Homo sapiens: one gene and its partners. The protein of the gene in region 3 interacts with the protein of the main gene of each other region in a biochemical or structural test. Each region holds a gene or a part of one and is shown on either strand. Other genes may lie near its edges.

Region 1 (7,025 bases), about 100 Mb from region 3:
CATGCAAGTCCGAAATCCAGCAGAGCAGTCCAAATCTCAAAGCTCCAAAATGATCTCCTTTGACTCCATGTCTCACATCCAGGTCACGCTGATCCAAGAGGTGAGTTCCCATGGCCTTAGGCAGCTCCACCCCTGTGGCTTTGCAGAGTACAGCCTCCCTCCCGGCTGTTTTCACTGGGTGGTGTTGAGTGTCTGCAGCTTTTCCAGGTGTACAGGGCAAGCTGTCAGTGGATCTATCATTCTGGGGTGTGGAGGACAGTGGCCCTCTTCCCACAGCTCTACCAGGTGGTGCTCCAGTAGGGACTCTGCTTGGGGGCTCCAACCCCACATTTCCCTTCCACACTGCCCTAGCGGAGGTTCTCCATGAGTGTCCCGCCCCTGCAGCAAACTTCTGCCTGGGCATCCAGGTGTTTCCATGCATCCTCTGAAATCTAGTGGAGGTTCCCAAACCCTCATTGTTGACTTCTGCGCACTCGCAGGCTCAACACCATGTGGAAGCTGCCAAGGTTTGGGGCCTGCACCTTCTGAAACCACAGCCTGAGTTCTACTCTATGTTGGCCCCTTTTGGCCACAGCTGAGACGGCTGGAACGCAGGGCACCAGGCCCCTAGGCTGCACACAGCAGGGGAACCCTGGGCCCAGCCCAGGAAACCATATTTTCCTCCTGGGCATCTGGGCCTATGATGGGAGGGGCTGCCATGAAGGCCTGTGACATGCCCTGGAGACATTTCCCCCCACTGTCTTGGGGATTAACGTTTGGCTCCCTGTTACTTATGCAAATCTCTGCAGCTGGCTTTAATTTCCCCTCAGAAAATGGAATTTTATTTTCTAGCACATTGACAGGAGGCTGCAAATTTTCCAAACTTTTATGCTCTGCTTCCCTTATAAAACTGAATGCCTTTAACTGTACCCAAGTCATCTCTTGAATGCTTTGCTGCTTAGAAATTTATTCTGCCAGATACCCTAAATCATCTTTCTCAAGTTCAAAGTTCCACAAATCTCTAGGGCAGGGGCAAAATGCGGCTAGTCTCTTTGCTGAAACATAACAGGAGTGACCCTTGCTCCAGTTCCCAACAAGTTCCTCATCTCCATCTGAGACCATCTCAGCCTGGATTTCATTGTCCATATCCTTATCAACATTTTGGTCAAAGCCATTCAACAAGTCTCTAGCGAGTTCCAAACTTTCCCACATTTTCCTGTCTTCTTCTGAGCCCTCCAAACTGTTCCAATCCCTGCCTGCTACCCAGTTGCAAAGCTGTTTCCAAATTTTCAGGTATCTTTTCAGCAGCATCGCACTCTACTGGTACCAACTTACTGTACCAGTATGTTTTCACGATGCTAATAAAGACATACCTGAGACTGGGCAATTTACAAAAGCAAGAAGTTTACAAAAGCCAGTTCCAAATGGCCGGGGAGGCTTCACAATCATGGCGGAAGGCAAGGAGAAGCAAGTAAGTCATGCCTTACATAGATGGCAGCAGGCAAAGAGAGCTTGTGTAGGGAAACTCCCCCTTATAAAAGCATCAGATCTCTTTTGTTTTTTTAGATTAAGTCTACTCTGTTGTCCAAGCTGGAGTGCAGTGGCATGATCTCGGCTCACTGTAATCTCCACCTCCTGGGTTCAAGCAATTCTCCTGCCTCAGCCTCCCAAGTAGCTGGAACTACAGGCATGTACCACCATGTCCAGCTAATTTTTGTATTTTTAGTAGAGACAGGGTTTCACTATGTTGGCCACACTCATCTTGAACTCCTAACCTCGTGATCCGCCCGCCTTGGCCTCCCAAAGTGCTGGGATTACAGGCATCAGCCACCGCCCCCGACCTAAAGCATCAGATCTCTTGAGACTTATTCACCATCATGAGAACAGCATGGGAAAGACCTGCCCCCAAGATTCAATTGCCTCCCACTGGGTCCCTCCCACAACATGTAGGAATTCAATGTGAGATTTGGGTGGGGACACAGCCAAACCATATCAGCACCTGTATTCCCATTTACTTGGGACACTGAGGCAAGAGGATTAATTTAGCTTAAAGTTTGAGGCTGTAGGCAGGGCATGGTGGCTCATGCTTATAATCCCAGCACTTTGGGAGGCTGAGGCGGGCAGATCACCTGAAGTCAGGAGTTCAAGACCAGGCTGGCCAACATAGTGAAACCCTGTCTCTAATAAAAATACAAAAATGAGCTAGACGTGGTGCTGCCCACCTGTAATCCCAGCTACTCGGGAGGCTGAGACAGGTGAATCACTTGAACCCAGGAGGTGGAGGTTGAAGTGAGTTGAGAAAGAACAAGATTCTGTCTTTAAAAAAAAAAAAAAGTTTTAGGCTGTACTGTGCTATATAATTGCACCTGCAAATAGCCACTGCACTCCTGCCCGGGAAACATAGGAAGACAACCTTCTCTTAAATTAAAAAAAAAAAAAAAAGAAAGAAAGAAAAGGGCTGGACGTGGTGGCTCACACCTGTAATCCCAGCACTTTGGGAGGCCGAGGTGGGTGGATCACAAGGTCAGGAGTTCGAGACAGGCTGGCCAACATGGTGAAACCCCATCTCTAGTAAAGATACAAAAAATTAGCCAGCCGTGGTGGCACATGCCTGTAATCCCAGGTCCTTAGGAGGCTGAGGCAGGAGAATTGCTTGAACCCGGGAGGCAGAGGTTGCAGTGCTGAGATCGTGCCACTGTACTCCAGCCTGGGTGACAGAGCAAGACTCCGTCTCAAAAAACAAACAAAAAACAAAAAAACACAGATGATCATGATGGGAGAATAGGAGAGAACATTTCTACCTGAGGCATTTTCAACTTTTCAACTTGCAAGAGTAGGAGGCGAGAACCAACACTGGAAGACATCAAGAAGGTACTTACAAGGGAAGCAAATTTTAGTGCAGGTAACACAGAATGCTGCCATATTTAGGAGCAGAATTTAGCAGTAGTTTGGCTAAAGTAAGAGGTGAGGTGTGGCAGACAGGGAAATGCCTAGGCCCTAGGACAACTTCCCTTAGCTGGTGAGAGGAGAAAACTTAGGAAAAATAACTTTGAGGAATACAATACAGTTACTGAGAATCAATAAATTTTCTTGAGGATAATTATCAGACTCCTCTGCGGTGAAAGCAAAAATAAAGATACTATTTTGTTTTTACTATTTGAAGTTTCTAGAAACATTGGCCATGTGCTTTCCCACCACACAAAAAAAGCAGATGACATAACAAAGCCTAACAAAAGGAACAAAGGTAGGAGTCAGGGGTGGGGTGAAGTTTCGAGCTCTGCTTACTAATTGTGTGACCTTGGGCAAGTGACCCTGATCTCCCAGTGCCTCAGGAAGAGTAAAATGGGGCTAACTACAACAACTATCTTATAGAGTGGTTCTGTAAGAGAGTAAGAAGTAGGGAATCACTCAACCATAGATATTAAATCATGAGTCTGGAGTCTGAGACCAGCCTGGACAAAAGGGCAAGACCCAGTCTACAAAACTTTGTTAAAAATTAGCCAGGTGTGGGCCAGGCGAGGTGGCTCACGCCTGTAATCCCAGCACTTTGGGAGGCTGAGGCGGGTGGATCTTGAGGTCAGGAGATCGAGACCATCCTGGCAAACACGGTGAAACCCTATCTCTACTAAAAATACAAAAAATTAGCTGGGCATGGTGGCACGTGCCTGTAGTCCCAGCTACCCGGGAGGCTGAGGCAGGAGAATGGCGTGAACCTGGGAGGCGGAGCTTGCAATGAGCCGAGATCGCGCCACTGCACACCAGCCTGGGCGGCAGAGTGAGACTACATCTCAAAAACAAACAAACAAACAAACAAAAAGCCAGGTGCGGTGGCGTGCGCCTGTAGCCCCAGCTACTTGGGAGGCTGAGGTGAGAGGATCTCTTGAACCCAGAAGTTGGAAGCTGCAGTGAGTTACGATCGCACCAATGCACTCCAACTGGGGCAACAGGGAGATATTCTCTTAAAAAATAAATAAAAAATGCTAATGATCATTTGAGTCTTCACAAAGTTGTAATATTTTTGCTGGTGAAGGGTCTTGCCCTGATGATGGCTGCTCATGGATCAGGGCAGTGGCTAATGAAGGTTGGGGCAGCTGTGACAGTTTTTCTTTTTCTTTTTTTGAGATGGAGTTTCACTCTTGTTGCCCAGGCTGGAGTACAACGGCGCAATCTTGGCTCACCGCAACCTCTGCCTCCCTGGTTCAAGCAATTCTCCTGTCTCAGCTTCCCGAGTAGCTGGGATTACAGGCATGCCCCACCACGCCCAGCTAATTTTTTTGTATTTTTAGTCGAGACGGGGTTTCTCCATGTTGGCCAGGCTGGTCTGGAAGTCCCAACCTGAGGTGATCCGCCTGCCTCGGCCTCCTAAAGTGCTGGGATTACAGGCGTGAGCCACCGCACTGGGCCAACTGTGACAATTTCTTAAAATGAAGTTTGCTGCATCAGTTGTCTCTTCCTTTCATGAAAGATTTCTCTGTAGCGTGCAATGCTGTGTGACAGCATTTTACCCACAGTGGAACTTCTTTCAAAATTGGAGTCAATCCTTTCAAACCCTGCCACTGTTTTATTAACTAAGTTTATAAAATATTCTAAATCCTTTGTTATAATCTCAACAATGTTCACTGCACCTTCAGCAGTAAATTCCACCTCAAGAAACCACTTTCTTTGCCTGTCCACAGGAAGCAACTCTCCATGTGTTCAAGTTTTATTTAAAAATTGCAGCAATTCAGTCACATCTTCAGGTTCTACTTTTTTTTTTTTTTTTTTTGAGACAGAGTCTCGTTCTGTCAACCAGGCTGGATGGAGTGCAATGGCGTGATTTCGGCTCGCTGCAACCTCTGCCTCCTGGGTTCAAGCGATTCTCCTGCCTCAGCCTCCTGAGTAGCTGCGATTACAGGTGCGTGCCACCACACCTGGCTAATTTTTTTGTGTGTTTTTAGTAGAGACGGTGTTTCACCGTGTTAGCCAGGATGGTTTCAATCTCCTGACCTCGTGATCCGCCTGCCTTGGCCTCCCAAAGTGCTGGGATTACAGGTGTGAGCCACCTTGCCTGGCCCTTTTATTTTTTTGAGACAAAGTCTCACTCTATTGTCCACGCTTGAGTGCAGTGGCCCGATCTTGGCTCACTGCAACCTCTGCTTCCTGGGTTCAAGCAATTCTCCTGCCTCAGCCTCTGGAGTGGCCGGGATTACTATGCAGTAACAATCCCACTACCACGCTCAGCTAATTTTTGTATTTTTAGTAGAGACAAGGTTTTATCATGTTGGCCAGGCTGGTCTCCAACTCCTGACCTCAGGTGATCCATCAGGCCCAGCCTTCAGGCTCTACTTTTTTTTTTCTAGACAGAGTCTCGCTCTGTCGCCCAGGCTGGAGTGCAGTAGTGTGATCTCGGCTCACCACAACCTCTGCCCCTCCAGGTTTAAGCAATTCTCTGCCTCAGCTTCCAGAGTAGCTAGGATTACAGGCGTGCGCCACCACGCCCTGCTAATTTTTTGTATTTTTAGTAGAGACGGGGTTTCACCATCTGGCCAGGCTGGTTGTGAACTCCTGACCTCGTAATCCACCCGCCTAGGCCTCCCAAAGTGCTGAGATTACAGGCGTGAGCCACCAGGCCCGGCCAGGCTCTACTTCTAATTCTAGTTCTCTTGCTATTTCCACCACATCTACAGTTACTTTTTCCATTGAAGTCTAGAACCCCTCAAAGTCACCCATGAGGGTCAGAATCAACTTTTTCCAAGTTCTTGTTGTGTTAATTGATTTTTTTTTTTAAGACGGAATCTCACTGTTGCCCAGGCTGTAGTGCAGAGGCACAATCTCGGCTCACTGCAGCCTCCACCTCCTGGGCCCAAGCGATTAACCTACCTCAGCTCCTCAAGTAGCTGGGACTACAGGAGCGTGCCACCATGCCTGGCTAATTTTTGTATTTTGTTGGTAGAGACGGGGTTTCACCATGTTGGGCAGGCTGGTCTCAAACTCCTGACCTCAGGTGATCTGCCTGCCCCAGCCTCCCAAAGTGCTGGGATTACAGGCGTGAGCCACCGTGAACTGCTGATGTTGATATTTTGACCTCCTCCCATGAATCACAAATATTCTTTTTTTTTTTCTTTTTTGAGATGGAGTCTCGCTCTGTTGCCCAGGCTGGAGTGCAGTGGTGCTATCTTGGCTCACTGCAAGCTCCTCTTCCCGGGTTCACACCATTCTCCTGCCTCAGCCTCCCGAGTAGCTGGGACTACAGGTGCCCGCTGCCAAGACCGGCTAATTTTTTGTATTTTTAGTAGAGATGGGGTTTCACCATGTTAGCCAGGATGGTCTCGATCTCCTGACCTTGTGATCCGCCCACTTCGCCTCCCAAAGTGCTGGGATTACACGGGTGAGCCACCGTGCCTGGAGACAAATATTCTTAATGGTATCTAGAATAGTATATCCTTTCAGGAGGTTTTTAATTTACATTGTTGATACCCATCAGAAGAATCACAATCTATGTAGCTGTAGCCTTACAAAATGCATTTCTTTCTTTCCCCCTGCCGCCCTTTTTTTTTTTTTTTTTTAAGAGACTGGCAGTGGAGGGGGTGGTCTCACTATGCTGCCCCGGCTGGTCTCTAACTCCTGAGCTCAAGCGATCCACCAGCTTTGGCCTCCCGAAGTGCTGCGAGTACAGGCATGAGCCACTGTGCTCAGCCTCAAGATGCATTTCTTAAGTAAGATTTGAGAGTTGAAATTACTCCTTGATCCATGGGCTGCAGAACAGATGTTAACATTAATCTTACTCATCTCCATGAGACCTCTTTGGTGACTAAGCACATTCTCAATGAGCAGTAATATTTTGAAAGAAATCTTTTTTTCTGAGCTGTAGATCTCAATAGTGGGCTTAAAATATTCAGTAAAACATACTGTAAACAGATATGCTACTATACAGGCTTTCCTGTTTCAATGATCAGCACACAGTAGATTTTTGCATACTTCTTAAGGGCCCTAGGATTTTCAGAATGGTAAATGAGCACTAGTTACAACTTAAGTCACTGGCCACACTAGCCCCTAACAAGAGAATC
Region 2 (7,025 bases), on a different chromosome or scaffold from region 3:
CCTCACTCATCTGAAATGACCCCAGCCTTTGAACGCTCAAATGCTACCCCACCTCCGAGGTGCAGCTCATCCTGGGAAAGATTCCCTGAGCCTCCAGCCAAGTCACTTTCTCCTCTGAGGACTCAATGCACTCCCTTCTGCTCAGACACTATCACTGTGATTCTTCTGGTTTTGTTCTCATCTCTTTTCCCCCCGCTAAAATATAAGCTGACTAAGGTCAGGATCATATCTTATGCTTCTCTATTACCCCCTGTTAGAGAGGGTATTAAAGACACTGTAGCAACTAACAGCATCTTCTCACTTGCATACGGTGACTAAACTGACCTTCTGAGAAAGTTGGAGTGAATTGGAGCAGGCTGAAACAATCTATGGCATGACTCCAAAGCTGGAAATTAAAATATATTCACACTATACATACATGGAAAGAGTGTGTGGTTTAGTTTCCTTCTAGAGGAAAAAAAGTGTTTACTGTCGCCCTGCTACCAAATAAAGCAACAAAATCAGAGCATCAATATCAGCTACCAATTAACAGTAAAAACATATTCATGGGAAAAGTACAGAGGGTATACAAATTATTTATTAGAATAGCTAAGGCTCTATAAATGCAATGAACACAGTTCCCTTGGAAATATCTTTCTTATAAGTTACTGCAATGTCAATCTCAAATCCTACTCTCCCTCTTCCCATCCTCAACCACTCTACCTCCAGGCTCTTAAAAAGTATTTCTGATGCTTTTTTCTCACTGATGATTTCTGTAGTGTTTTCTTAAGGACACTATTTTGAATTGGCCAAATCTTTTAGAAGTCTCTAAGCCTATAGATACCGCCAGGTAGAGGGTTTGACTTCTAACTTTCAAGGTACCTTGAAATTCTTCCATGATCTATATGCTTTAAATAAGAATGAAATTATTTTGTGTTATTTGTTTCAGGGTTAATGTCTTAGCTAAGCAGTAACATTATTTTGAAATTATTTAGTCCCTTCAAATTAAAAAATAATTTGGGGACAAACGCAATAATCACAGGATATTAGATAGATGAGATCATTTTAATTAACTTTTCAATTAGTTTTTCCATCTGTTATCAAATCTTGCTTTCACTAAAGTTATTCCAGAAAACATACAAATGTATAAATACATAATGTTCTGTGTTTTACACTGAAGTTAAAAAAAAACTTTTGTTTTTAACTGTGTGTAGACACTATGTCTTCAGTGCCCAAAATAAGCTACCAGAGAAAAGGACATCCATTATGGGCAAAACATAAAAATACTTTATGAGTAAACCAGTGAAGCTTTTGCTTAAAAACCCATGATGCGAAAGATAAGACACCTACTAGCAAACCGCAAGCAGCACTGACCTATTTTTATTACTTCAAGACTTACCATCTAAGAGCTTCCCATGAAATACGGCCAGACCAGCAACTCTTCCAATAAAAGTGAAGTAGGACAAATGATCCTCATTACAGAGGCCTGAATTAGGGTTGATCTGAAGGGTGTAGTTGTCCCTTTTGAGGAGAAAGAGAAGAAAAGCCCAATCACACTTTCAAATGCAAGATTTTGCATATTTGTTTGCCACCTGTCACTCAACTTTTACAGTGTCCCTGCGAGCATTCTGTACCTAGTGGGAAAATGTGTGGGCTAGAGGACCTGACTTACCACATGCTCAACCGTGACCCACCATGGAGGCTGACGCATGTGCCCTCTAAAGTCAATTAAACCATAAGAGACGCTGATGTTTGACTGTTTTTGACCTACGAAGTGTCTATTTCATATGGTTCAGCCAAATATCTTGGGGAGATGAGAAACGCCACATAATAAAGGGGCTGTGCAGGGATTCCCAAAGATGTGAGTACTTTAGGTCGTCTCTGTGATGAAGGAAGTTTAATTCCTTCCAGAGGCTTTTGGCTTGGCCATAAGATGTTTGCTATGGGCCCAACCCTTGGTCTGTCTTCTGACCACTACTCTGCTCTGAAAAGGCCTCGAGGGGATTAGGAACAGGATATGGCTCTCTCAATGATGCAAACCTGCAAATTTTTAGATTTGTCCAAATGATCTTGCTTGGTTCACAATCATGTGGATCAGTAGTTTTCAAACTGGGATCACAGACTGATTCCTCCGGGGTGGGGGTATCTTTGAAAATGTGGAGAAGAGGTAAAGATCTTGTCTCTCTCCACCCTGCCCTCCACCTTCAATAGTTGGATACATTGTACATAGTGGGCTTTCTCATGGGACTCAGTAACAACAAATCAATTGGGCAATTCTTGGCTAGAGCAACCAGGAAGAATGTACTGAGGCGGCCTTCCAAATGAGCCCCCAGGAGACTGGTACCAGGTGGGAGATGTGGGGGAACCCACGTCCCCTTAGAGCCCAGGGCTGGAGTGATGACAAATGCCCTTCAGCAAGGTCAATGACTATTCTACTGGGGGCTTGGGTACTGCCCAACCCTTGGAGGATTCAGAGTCTGAAGGAGGAATGGCTGGCCTGGAAGTAGCTGATGTTTAATTGCTCAGAAAGCAATTTAGTCTGCCTCAGTTTCCAAGCCTGGCAATGATGAAATCCTAATGCAAGGGGAAACCTGGTTCTTTCCTTACAGGAGCAGGGCATGGTCCTAGGTCCTCAAAGTCCTTACAATTTGCCTTTACACAGGAGACCTCAGAAACGACTCTTGTTCAAAAAACACCTCCTTTGTTTTTGAATTCTAACACTGACAAGTCCTCCTCTTGAACACTGCAAATGAAAATCGCCTCCTGTTCCTTATCATAATTATCCACGTTTTCAATTTCAACTCCATGAACCCAATAGACAAGAAAAAAAATCAATGTTAGATGTTCGCAGAGTACACTATTTCACCACGTAGAGTCAGAACCTGTTCTAGACTTGCAAGGGGCTGTGGGGTGAGGAGAGAACAAACTCAGCAGAGTTAATGCATCTCGAACTCATGAGCTGCTTATCCTTTCATTCTGTTTAAATTCATACAACTGTCTCAGTGGGGGACACACACTGGGTGTGGCCATATACTTACGTGGCAGAGTACTCAAAGAGGCCGTAGTAGGGGTTGAACATCTCTTTGGACAGTAAGAAGAACCATTCTCTGGCCACACCCCCATAGTCAAGACCTTTCTCTGATTCAAACTCAATCCACAGTCTAGCTTTTAGGACATCTGGTCTTTTCACGGACATAATTCTCCGATAGGACTCTTCAAATATGTTATTTCTGTGAAGTTTCATTTCAAACCTATTGGGGATATCAGCCTACACAAAAGACAAAAGAAAACACATAATCATACAGTAAATACACACTTTGTTTTCTAATAAAAACAACAGCAAATGGTAGAAAAGTTGGCAGTCCTCAAAGAAACAGGCAGTGACAAATGGTTCCAACTGAGATTCTCTCCTTTAGGGGTTTTCCCTTGCAGACAGAAAGCCTTGCTGTGTCACGATGGGACACACGGCATCCACTAGCGATGCTCAGGAAAGTTAGAACTCTGCTGCGAAGGAGAACATCCTCCTTGCCCCCTTTAATAAACAACTGTGGGCACTTCTCCAGCATAGGGCAACCGAAAGGCAGTCGACTGTATCTGTTGCTTCACTCAAGAGACTTTAGCCCAGGTAGTCAAAACCTGTAATAATCCCCACCTGGCCAGGTTGGGCCTATCCATGCTCAACTGTGGCAGGGCCGCCAGGTGGTAGATATAATCCACGCTGCCTCAAGTCCATTTTGTTGCCATGGGGAGTGGGATCCTGATTATGCCAAGTGTGGGGAAAGCAGCCCAAAGCATGGTTCGCTGACATGAAAATAACAAAACACTTGACCAAGGTTGTGGCAACTGCCTCCTGCAAAGAGGCGGTCCAGGCTTGGTCTGGCTGTAAGAATGAATGTGCAGAGATGGTTTCCGGGTAGCAGACACTGCTATGTGAGAGCCATAGAGTGAGACTGGGTGATGACCACAGTCATCATCATTACCAGGGGACATGACTCACAAAGAAAACTGTGGAATTTTCAGTGATCATTTGAGTTTTGAAGGCAAAGAATCATTTCAATAGCAGTTACCCGCAAGCTCTTGAATCAGGACTTTGGAACAGAGACCAAAACCCCTAAATGAGAGCAGACATTGTGCCCCATCCAGAGATGTTCCCGGGCAGGAGGAACCAGCTGAGGGGAGGAGGCAGGGAGAGATGGCAATGGAGCCCAGGCCACCAGAGGGGGTCTGAGCTGCAGCCGCTTCTCTCCCCTCCCTAGAGGTGTAACCATAGTGATGGAGAAAATTGAAGAGAAAACTGCTAAGGAGGAATCGGAAAGTAAAACAGAGGATGCAATGTTGAACAATTTGGGGATGGTGTGTCATTAGAAAATGCAATGTTATAATTTAAAATGTTGCCCATAAAAATTTTTAGAGTTTCTAGGTTTTAAACTGCCAGGGATAATTATAAGTAGAAAATTACATTTGGACGTAATACTGCCAATTATTATAATTAAATATAACACTATATTATAAATACTGTAGTTGAAACTAAGCTTTTGCATTTACAAGGAAGGACTTGAACATTTTTCTTACCGGGATCCAGGTTAATTAAATATGATAACTGCGCATAATTGAATAGGCTTCCACAGATTTTGTGACTAGGGTTCTGAATTATTTTATATCCCATAAAAATCATTCCTGTCTTTTTATGTATTACATAGGAAATTACCCTTCAGGTGATTTGATATGTAACACTGAGTTAATTTTCACTTACCATTTCTGTTAAAAAGAAAATTCAGATTTTAGAACCAGGAGGATCAAAGTGCAGAGAGAAAAGGAAGGTAATATTTTTAGCATTCATATAAAAGTAACAACCAAGTTGTTCTCACTGAAGTGACTGTGGTAACTTACAAATGACTAACACAAAGCATTTTTGGAAGGCATGATTACTCACAGGTTTCTTTAATTTCTTCCTGAAGTAGTCATATTTCTGCTTAAATTCTCTGGAGTAAGGGACAGCCTGGAAGATAAATTTATAAATATAGATAATGCAAACAATACACCTGAAATTTTATGTATACTGAGGCAACATTCAAGAGAATTTCATGAGTCATAAACCGTAAATTCTCACTTCTCAGATTATCCATGGAAAAATTAGATAATGTCTACACAGCACAGGGGAAAGTCCTAGAACTGATGAGGGCTAATCAGCTTTGAATGCAGCTTTCACCCCTGAAAACAGCTATACTGCTATTTGAGAAACCATTTGGGGTACGCTACACAAACTAAACATGCTTTCCAAGTGACTTTTGTCAGAATATGAGTCAGGGTGTTTCTGTTTTTCTTTTTTGCTGTGGTTTAGGTAAGAGTTATTGGCTAAATACTTCTAACATACAACCCAGAATGACCTACGTTGGCATTTTGAAAAGTCTAATTACGGTTTAACGAATTTTTGTGGGGAAATACAACGAGCAGAAAGGGAAGTGAACTGACACTCCTATCAAGGAATATAAAATCAGGCAGATGGCATTCTCAAAAAATCCTCAATTTAGAAGTCAGAAGGTTTGTCCCTTAATATTTAGTGGTCTTGGGCAAGGATTTCTTTAAATCTCAAATGCTTTATCTATGAAATAGAGTGATAGTACCCCAGTTGAGGGCTCAGGAATTGAGTTAACTATAGTCATTCAAAAGTTGTGATATCTCTTCAGGCAAAGGAGTAACATGTTAATGTAGTCATTTAAATAATCTTTATTTGCTACCTTGTAAAGTAGCTTACAATATCTTAGAGTCAGGGCCGTGAGTTTTGGCTACTGAAAAAGCTTACGATATTTTTATGAGCAAAAAGGATTGGGTTTTGCATATACACAGACATTAACTATGACAGCCTCGAAAACAACTCATTGCTTTTTAGCCACTAGTATGAATTTCAGCAGAGAATACTTCTGCTGTTATCATTTCGGCCTAAGTTAATAAAATATACTGATCCTTAGTCTAGTATCTCCAGACTCCAAACCTTACACTTTCACCATACTTATCTTGACCAGAAACAGAAGAAATGAAGAACATGAACTTCCCTCTTTTATAGTTTTAAGACATGTTTATATAAAAAACCCGAAACAAAACAAACAACCACTCTTCCAGAAAATGAGCACGTCAGTGTTTTGCTCTGTAATTCCAGAGCAAAAAATACATCATCTTTATATAGCTTAGGAGCAATCTATAGACAATTTACACTGCCTATGGTCTTTTCTTAGTTTTTAAGCCAGTCTTCTTTGATTTTCCACTGAACAACAGATTTGACCTCACATCCTATTTATTTTAGGCAGTGTTTAGTCTGATGAAACCACATAGCAATTCTGAGTCTAGGCAAGGTATAAATTTGTTAATACCTGGACAACCACCAAAATAAGAAAAAGAATACAATGTTCTGACATAAGCCAATAAAGAGATCATGTTTTCTGCTCTACCAACAGTACATCCCGTCACAAACTAAGATTTCCTCTCTAGTTTATTTCTCACTTTCTGGTGTTCATTCTCGTCCATTCAACCGATACTTCTTGAGCACCTACTCTGTGCAAGGCATTTTAGGTGCCAGAAAAATAACAGTACATAAACCAAAGGTAGCTTTCCCAGTTCCCTCCTGGAGCTCACAAGCTGTTGAGAGCAACAGGCAATAGGAAATCAATGAATAAACCGTGGTAGTGCCATGAGGAAAAAAATGACCCCATAGGAACTAAAAAAGTGACTTCCTTCCACTCTCTCCTGCCAGCGTTAGAAGGCCTGCACTCTCGGGTAGACTCTCATCAGCTGGCTCTGCATCACATCCTCTCTACTAAGGAGTTTCTTCACTGTTAAGTGGAAGAATTTGACTGGATGAACAAACGTGACTCAGCTCTTCTATTTCTGAAAGTCTGTGATTCCCAGCAACTATTTTTTGTTTGTTCCTGTATTCGTGAGGGTTCTCCAAACATCACTGTTACATCACAGTTCCCCCTACTCCTGAAAATGTTGGAAAAAAAGCTTAAACAGTCATCACTGTGTATGCAAGTTCGACTGTCTTAAATGAC
Region 3 (7,500 bases):
GCTAGAATTCTAACTGGAGCATTTCTGCTCCAATGTTTACACTCTTAACCACTGTTATATTGTCTCTCTAAAGCTTTTAAATCATTTAAGTGGTGTCACAGCAGCTGGGTATGACCTGTAAGAGAAAAAAAATCAGAGGCCTTCCTTTAACGTGTTCTGTTCCACATGCACAAAAAGCTATGGATCTGGTACTATTCCACATTTTAGTGGCCTGAACTAATTCCAACAGAAAAGATTTTTATTTGTACTGAATGTTATGCTCTTTGTGTAAACCACACTGTAACATACAACTAGGCTTCTCCAATATGTTCCTGGCCTTTAAAGTGGTCACAAAAAGAGGTAATTATTTCAAAATAATTTTTACTTTAATCCTTAACTCCTAAAAAGCGTTTCTTCCTCTTTTCTTTCATTTCACAAAGATTTAAATTTGTATTTCGCATAACCCAAAATGACGATGTTATGAAGGCCCAAAACAAAATTCACGATTTCATATCAATACATACTAAGAGTGAAGATTTAAACCTTCCTCTTTCATGAAACACCAATCTTGCCAAATAAACTCCAGTCATAATTAAATACAGGCAAATGTAGTATCAGGTCTATTTTAGTAAAGGCAAATTCTTGCCATTCCTCTCAGAACTCTTTTTAAAAAAGTAATCTATTAAAACCAAAGTTTCTAACACTCACCGACACTCCACAATTTTTCTAGTAAGGCTGAATTTATTCCATGACATTTTTTTCAAGTTAGCTGTAAACACTCCACCCTCTTCGATTGTGCAACAACCAAACACATCACACAAATACAAGTCACAAAAAAGGGAAATACAGTTTAAGAGTTTGAATTTAGGTAAGTTTTGAGCAGAGGATCTTAGAGCAGTGCACAACGCGATATAAAAGTTAACATTTAACAAATCATATTAATTCACATTATTACGAAAGGAGATGCCGGAAAGAGCCTGAACCAGTTAAAGCAGCCGCCATCTTAAAATGCGGGATAGAAGTTAGAGCAAGAAAATGAGACTAAACCACCGGAGGTGGAGGTTCCGCTCACTCCCAGAGCTCCGAAAAATCCTAGTTTTTTTTCAACTTAAATCGATAATATACTATCAAACCACATTTCAAGTAACGAAACAAGGGTGTTATTAAATAGAATGAGGCAAAAATAGGTACATTAGCTTTCCCTTACTGCCATCGCACCCCTTATCCACCCCCACTCTCCAGCCAAAAGGAAAAGGGAGCTTCCAGAATGCCTTTTACATCAGTTCCCGGTGTCCCTCGGATAAATAGCTTCGGGTGAAAAGCTGCAACTACAAAATACAGGAAGTGGCAACACTGTGTCATTCCATCTCCTCCCAAACCCACTTATTCGGTGTAACCTGCCCAGAGTCGACTAAGAGTTTCTACTAGACTCACTGACTGACCTTCAATACGCAAGACTTCTTCTACCCGACCCTCAGTCAAGTTCGGGACTCGCCAGATTTTTTTTCTCTCCTCCGAGTTTTCTTTCTTACCCCTAGAAGGCCTAGATAACCTTGATCTCACAACTAAACTAAGTTTTCAAGCACCAAGAATAGGAAGCGCCATGACATCTGCTGGAGCGTCTCTCCGCAATTCGGACCCCCAAAAAAACTCCTTCTTAAGCAGCAAAAAAATAAAATAATAAAGGCGCCTTAAGTCACTCTCCTCCACCCCTAATTTGCACCGATTCCACTGAAGCACTCAGGATAACACCTCACTTGCCACAAGTGTTCTCCGTTTCCTAGCTTTAAACTTCATTTCTTCAAGAAGTATATCTGCGTTCTCCATCCCCCCATGGAAGAAGTGATCCAAGAGGTATTTTCAGAATTATGCTTCCTTCCCACCCCCACGCTTTCCTCTTGGCCCGAGCCTTCCTTTTCTCCTACCACCCCATGCCCTTGTCCCCGCGGGTTACCTTATTAATCCGTTTCAGCGCCATAGTGTGTGCTTGTCGTCTGGCTCCTCACTCTCTCGGTGTATGCTCAAAGGTCCGGCCAAAACTCTTGATTATCCCGGCGGCGGGGCAGGATTGTCTCGTCTCACACCAGCTCTGCCAGACACAGGCGCCTTTTGCAAAAACGGAGCAGATCAGCACTCGCACAGGCCCCGAAGAGCCCCTGATGAATCCAGGTCCCTTAAGACAGCCGCGATCCGGGGTGGGTGGGGTGGCGTGGCAAAGCCACCAACAGCCTCTGTACCGTGCTTTCGGCCCGAAGTGGGGGCGAGGGTGACGGGAAGAGCGGAGGTGGTGGCTACAAGTTTAACTTCCCGGCCTCTAGAAAGGAAGAGACCCGGGTGGGAGAGGAAGAGGCGTAGGAGAAAGGGGTGGGTGCGGGGCAGGGTCCGGAGCCCAGCAGAGGAGGAGCCGGGGCCTAGTCGGCGCTATACCGGCGTCACTAGGGCAAAGAAAGGCAAGGGGGGAGGGGGAAGCATAAGACTCCGGACGGACGCCGGGCTGCTTTCGGTTTCTGTCCAAAGGTGCGGCCGGGAAAAGGAAGGAAATAAAGGAAGGGAGACTTGATGTGTATTGCTATCCTCGCAGCGAGCTATTCTGTGTCACCCCTGACGCCACCGTACACTCACTCCGCCTTCCAGCGCGCTCCCGCGCGCGCCCGCCCAGCCACCTCCACCACGCGCCCGCGCTGTCCCTGAGGCTCCGGCTTAGGCGCGAGGACGCGCCCATTCCCCCTCCTCCTCCAGCAGGAGAGGCCGCGGCTTCCCCAACCTTCCCACCCTAACCCACCGCACCCAATAGGCTGGCCGCTCAAGCCGCCCAGGTCCCGCACTGCCCCTCTTACCCGGCCGGCCACTGGGCCGGCCTCCCTTCCCTGCCCTAGCCGTCCACACCCACGCGTACAGAGGGGCCGGGGCCTCCCTCAAGCTGCGGCCTCGGCCTCCTCCCCGCGCGGCAGCTGGTGCCTCCCCGGCCCTACGGGGCTCACGCGCACGACACAGCCACAAGATGTCCGCTCTGACGGAACTACTGCCAGCTGCCACGCTCCGCCCCTCCCCCTCCTCCTGCCTCTTCACCGCCGCGGATCAGTCCGCCAACGCCGCCGTCCCGAGCACAAGACCGATGTGAGGCCGAAGCCAGACGGCTTGCTTCCCACGTCCGGGGCCGAGTGAATACGTGTCAAGCCCTTTTCCTTCTTCTCGGAACAGCACCTTCTTACTAAACAGATCGGAGATTGGACCAGGAGGGCGGGGGAGGGAGGAGGATCATGAGCTGGGGGGAGGGTGAACGAGTGGCGGAAACCCTTAGGCTCAGAGAAGCATCGAGAACCGGAAGGAGACCATGGGAGGAAGGTAAAGGAAGCAGCCGCTGCGCGATCCAGCCCCACGCCCCTCCCCACAGCGTCCCCCAGTTTCCTCACTTGGTATCGAGGAGACGACTCTCGCGAGAACTTCGTGGCTGGCTAACCGAAGCGGTAGCTCTGCAATGACTTAAGAGCAGTTTTGTGCGCTTTTCCTGACGGGGTTCCGCCTCCAAAATGCATAAGTTCTCGCGAGACGCAGTAAGGCACCGGCTCGAACTGGGGCGGGCCACTGCCAGGAAAGCAACGCCCCTGAATGCTTATGCCGGTGGTTGGTAGAGGAAATGGAATTCCCCAGACTGGTAAGAGCGCGCGCAGACACAGCCTTGTCTCACGCGCCCAATCAGGAGCGTGTGGTGGGAGGTGCCAAGGATTAATTACCAGATACCTTTAGTCTAGCTCGGGCCGGGATTTTGAGGTTTCCGGTGGAGCAGGTGAGCAGTATTTACTCGCCTGCCCTCCTGGGCTGGTTATGCTGTGGGAGGAGGCGCCCCTCGAGATGGGAATAGTAGTTTTAAATAGACCCAGGTTGGCCGCTCATCAGCGCTCCCACGTGCTGAAGTCTAGTGCACGTCTGACCCTAAGGGAGCAATACTGAGAACAGCAGGGAGCAGGCTGAGTCAAGCTCAATTGAGTGGATGGGGCTAGGACAGAGAGAGTTAGGGGCAGGGTTTTCACTGGTCTCCGTAATCAGTCGCTGCCGTCCGCCAAGGTGTAGATGTGGGAACAAGCTTAAATTCTCAAACTTTAGCTTCTGTTGCTGTGTTTCAGTTCTTGAGCCAGAAAGTGTTGAGACTAATTAGTTAATTAGGTAGAGTTTAGAGTCAGAAAAACAATACAATACTTCCTGAAATATCCAAGTTGGGAGGTGGGATTTACCTCAGTAGGATTGGCCTGTTTTAGTCAAGGGTTTAAAGTATGGAGACGGCAGTTATGCTCTCTAGTGTATCCTTCAGGCAAAAGAAAGACCTTAATTTTTATGAGGAATTTAAAAGTGGGTAAGCACTGACCAGCTTAAGGTTTTTTAACATTCCTTAATGACCCCAGTTACCGAAGTGGAGATCTTCAATTACTTGGAAAAATAAACTTGTTTTAAAAATACACTTAATTTGAAAACTGTTGCAGAAAGTTTTACCTAATAAAAACTTAACACGTCAACAATGATGAATATAAGTAGTCTAATGTATACTGTTCAAGTGACCATGTAGTGTCACTAGTGAAGCAGTGCTTCTCAAACTAGTGTCCATAGGAACCACCTGGGGTTTTGTTGAAAATGCGACTTTGATTTGGTAGGGCAGTGGTGGAGCCTGAGAGCCTACATTTCTAACTAGCTCCCAGGTGATACAGATTTTTCTCGTCTGAACCACCCCGTGAGTAGCAAAGCACTGAAGTGCTTACCTCATGGCCTAACTGCTCATGAGGCTCACCTCAGTAACACCTCTGGCCCCTCCCTCCTCCCTGAATAATCTGTGTTCTCTCTCATAGCTAGCCAGATATACTAAAAGCACAGGACTAGGCATGAAGATGGAGGGAGGAACCCAGATTAGTTATTGCTTCCCATTTGCTTGATATTGGCCTGGTTAGTTATCTTCTAACCCCGTTTCTTCACCGCTAAAGTAAGTAATAATGACTGTCCTTTCTCACAGGGTGATTGTGTGGTTAAAGTGTCATAATATATGTGAAAGGACACTGGAGACTCTACAGTGCTGTATAAATGTCAGTTATTAAAGTAACCAGTCAGACATTAACTGGCCATAGTGTGAAACAAATGTATAGTAGTAATAGTGGCCACGCCTGTAATCCCAGCACTTTGGGAGGCTGAGACGGGTGGATCATATGAGATCAGGAGTTCGAGACCAGCCTGGCCAAAACAGTGAAACCCCATCTCTACTAAAAATACAAAAAATTAGCTGGGCGTAGTGGCGGGCGCCTGTAATCCCAGCTGCTTGGGAGGCTGAGGCCGGAGAATCGCTTGAGCCTGGAAGGCGGAGGTTGCGGTGGGCCAAGATCACTGCGACAGAGTGAGACCCTGTCTCAAAAAAAAACAAGAACAAAAAACAAAACTAATATATATGGAGTTCTAGATTATCCATGCTTATAAAGGCAAGTGATTGTGTAATCACAAACTCATTATTGTTAGGCAGTGAAGTAAATTCATTGGTTGATTGGGCTTTCTGTTTACAAGTTTGTATTTGCATAAGTGGACTTACATTTCTGCTTATATTTTGCCATGGTTAAAATCAAAAGAAACATAGCCTAGAAGCATTTTGATGCCTTAGGATAAAGCAGGCTAAGATTAAGTTAAATTTTAAAACATTATTCATGTACCTGTTGTTACAGAGAGCCCACTTTACAGTTGCAAATAAAGTTAAAACATTTTCATTCATTTAACTTACTTGAATTACAATGGTAGAGATGTCCTCATTTGAAACAAGAAAGGAAAATAATCATGTTTTTTATATTGCAGTCGGAAATAATGCTAACAAGAAAAAAATTATGGCTGTAAATACTGAAAGAAAAATTTACATTTAGAAATTAATAAAGGTACAAAAATGTTGAAAATTTAATTAACTAAAAATAATCCCTTCCTTAATAAATACTATTTTGAAGTCCTAAAAACTTTGTAAATATAGTAGATCAGATTATCTTGCATGAATTGACATAAAACATGAGAAAATAGAAAGGATCAAGAAAATTAAAGCTGGGCTGGTGGCTTACGCCTGTAATCCCAGCACTTTGTGAGGCCAAGGTGGAACGATCACTTGAGCCCAGGAGTTTGAGACCAGCCTGGATAACATAGGGTGACCCAGTCTCTACAAAAATAATAAAACAATTAGCTGAGCATGGTGGTACACGCCTATGGTCCCAGCTACTTGGGAGGCTGAGGTGGGAGGATTGCCTCAGCCTGGGAGGTTGAGGCTGCAGTGAGCTGTGATTGTGCCACTATACTCAAGCCTGTGATGGAGCAAGACCCTGTCTCAGAGAAAATTACTAGTAAATGGGCAATTAATCTACCAATCTGAATAATGGTGGTGTGCCAGGGTCTTATTACATGAATTTTTCAGTGAGGCCACGTTATTATAATAACTTGAGAGTAAGGGGTTAATTAGAATGTATTGATGAATAAACATAATTAACAGATTTTATATATATGTACTTAATATTGTATCTATGTTTTCATGTATCTTTAATTTTGTTACAGAATATTATAACTTGCCAAAGACACTGGCTCTAGTACAGTGTATACCATTTTATTAGTTTAATTAAATTGTAAATGCTACGGTCCAGATTTTATATTCAGAATGCTCATTTACATATTCTGCCTGGACCAAGTAATTTGGAGCCCAGGTCAACCAAATGTTATTTTACATTGTTTGCACAAAAATCAAATTGATTTCTATACTTAACAATTCAGAATCTCATTAAGTCAAATTAATATGGTTTAAGAAAGTGTACTTTATTTCATGCTAAGATGTCATTTTGGCCTTAATAAGGCTTTTGGCATGTAATGAAGCATGCACAAATCTTTGAGATAAAAATAGAGCATTTTTCCACACAAAAACATATATATACACAAATGTTCAGAGTAGGGCTATTCTACTTTTTAGTAGAAACAACTCAAATGTCCATCAGCTGATGAATGGATAAAGAAGATGTGATATATGTGTATAATGGAATATTATTATTATTATAAGGAACAAAGTACTAATACATGTTACAAAATGTATCTTGAAGCCTTAAAACATTCTGTCAAGTGAAAGAGCCAGACACAAAAGGCCACATACTGTTTGATTCTGTTTATGTGAAATGACCACAATAGTGCATTCTGTCTTCCAAAAAGCTGGTTTACTTACAAACACAGGTTAAAAAAATATATATTTGTAATACTGCTTTTGGTGTAGGGTGAGGCACGATAAAGAGACTTTCATTCGGTTTGTCAATCAGTGATACTTAGGTCTGAATAGGCAAGTGGGAGTCTTTCAGGTTTAGGACAAAGAATGTTAATGTAGTAGAGATCTGTTGATAGAGTCACTCCTAGTTTTCTATTTATTTAAAAAACATCGAATTACTATTAGGTGCTAGACACTGAAGATACATAAAAGACACAGATGTCATCTATAAGAAAGTCTCTTGAGGAGACCAGTAAGCATCAGACAACATCATAGAG

Evidence for each region.
Region 1: the proteins of UBE2D3 (region 3) and RNF4 form a complex in vitro, tested with the Homo sapiens proteins (6 studies listed by BioGRID).
Region 2: the proteins of UBE2D3 (region 3) and NEDD4L form a complex in vitro, tested with the Homo sapiens proteins (7 studies listed by BioGRID).

Annotation. Positions count from the first base shown.
Region 1 is NC_000004.12:2,472,101-2,479,125, reverse strand, and holds part of RNF4 (E3 ubiquitin-protein ligase RNF4), read right to left. Parts: intron 1-7,025. UniProt on the Homo sapiens protein: E3 ubiquitin-protein ligase which binds polysumoylated chains covalently attached to proteins and mediates 'Lys-6'-, 'Lys-11'-, 'Lys-48'- and 'Lys-63'-linked polyubiquitination of those substrates and their subsequent targeting to the proteasome for degradation.
Region 2 is NC_000018.10:58,362,221-58,369,245, reverse strand, and holds part of NEDD4L (E3 ubiquitin-protein ligase NEDD4-like), read right to left. Parts: intron 4,979-7,025; coding exon 4,913-4,978; intron 3,248-4,912; coding exon 3,018-3,247; intron 1,501-3,017; coding exon 1,379-1,500; intron 1-1,378. UniProt on the Homo sapiens protein: E3 ubiquitin-protein ligase that mediates the polyubiquitination of lysine and cysteine residues on target proteins and is thereby implicated in the regulation of various signaling pathways including autophagy, innate immunity or DNA repair.
Region 3 is NC_000004.12:102,824,552-102,832,051, forward strand, and holds the start of UBE2D3 (ubiquitin-conjugating enzyme E2 D3), read right to left. Parts: upstream 3,001-7,500; 5' UTR 2,876-3,000; intron 2,308-2,875; exon of another isoform or gene 2,086-2,307; 5' UTR 1,958-2,085; coding exon 1,934-1,957; intron 1,312-1,933; exon of another isoform or gene 1,187-1,311; intron 767-1,186; exon of another isoform or gene 688-766; intron 1-687. UniProt on the Homo sapiens protein: Accepts ubiquitin from the E1 complex and catalyzes its covalent attachment to other proteins. In vitro catalyzes 'Lys-11'-, as well as 'Lys-48'-linked polyubiquitination.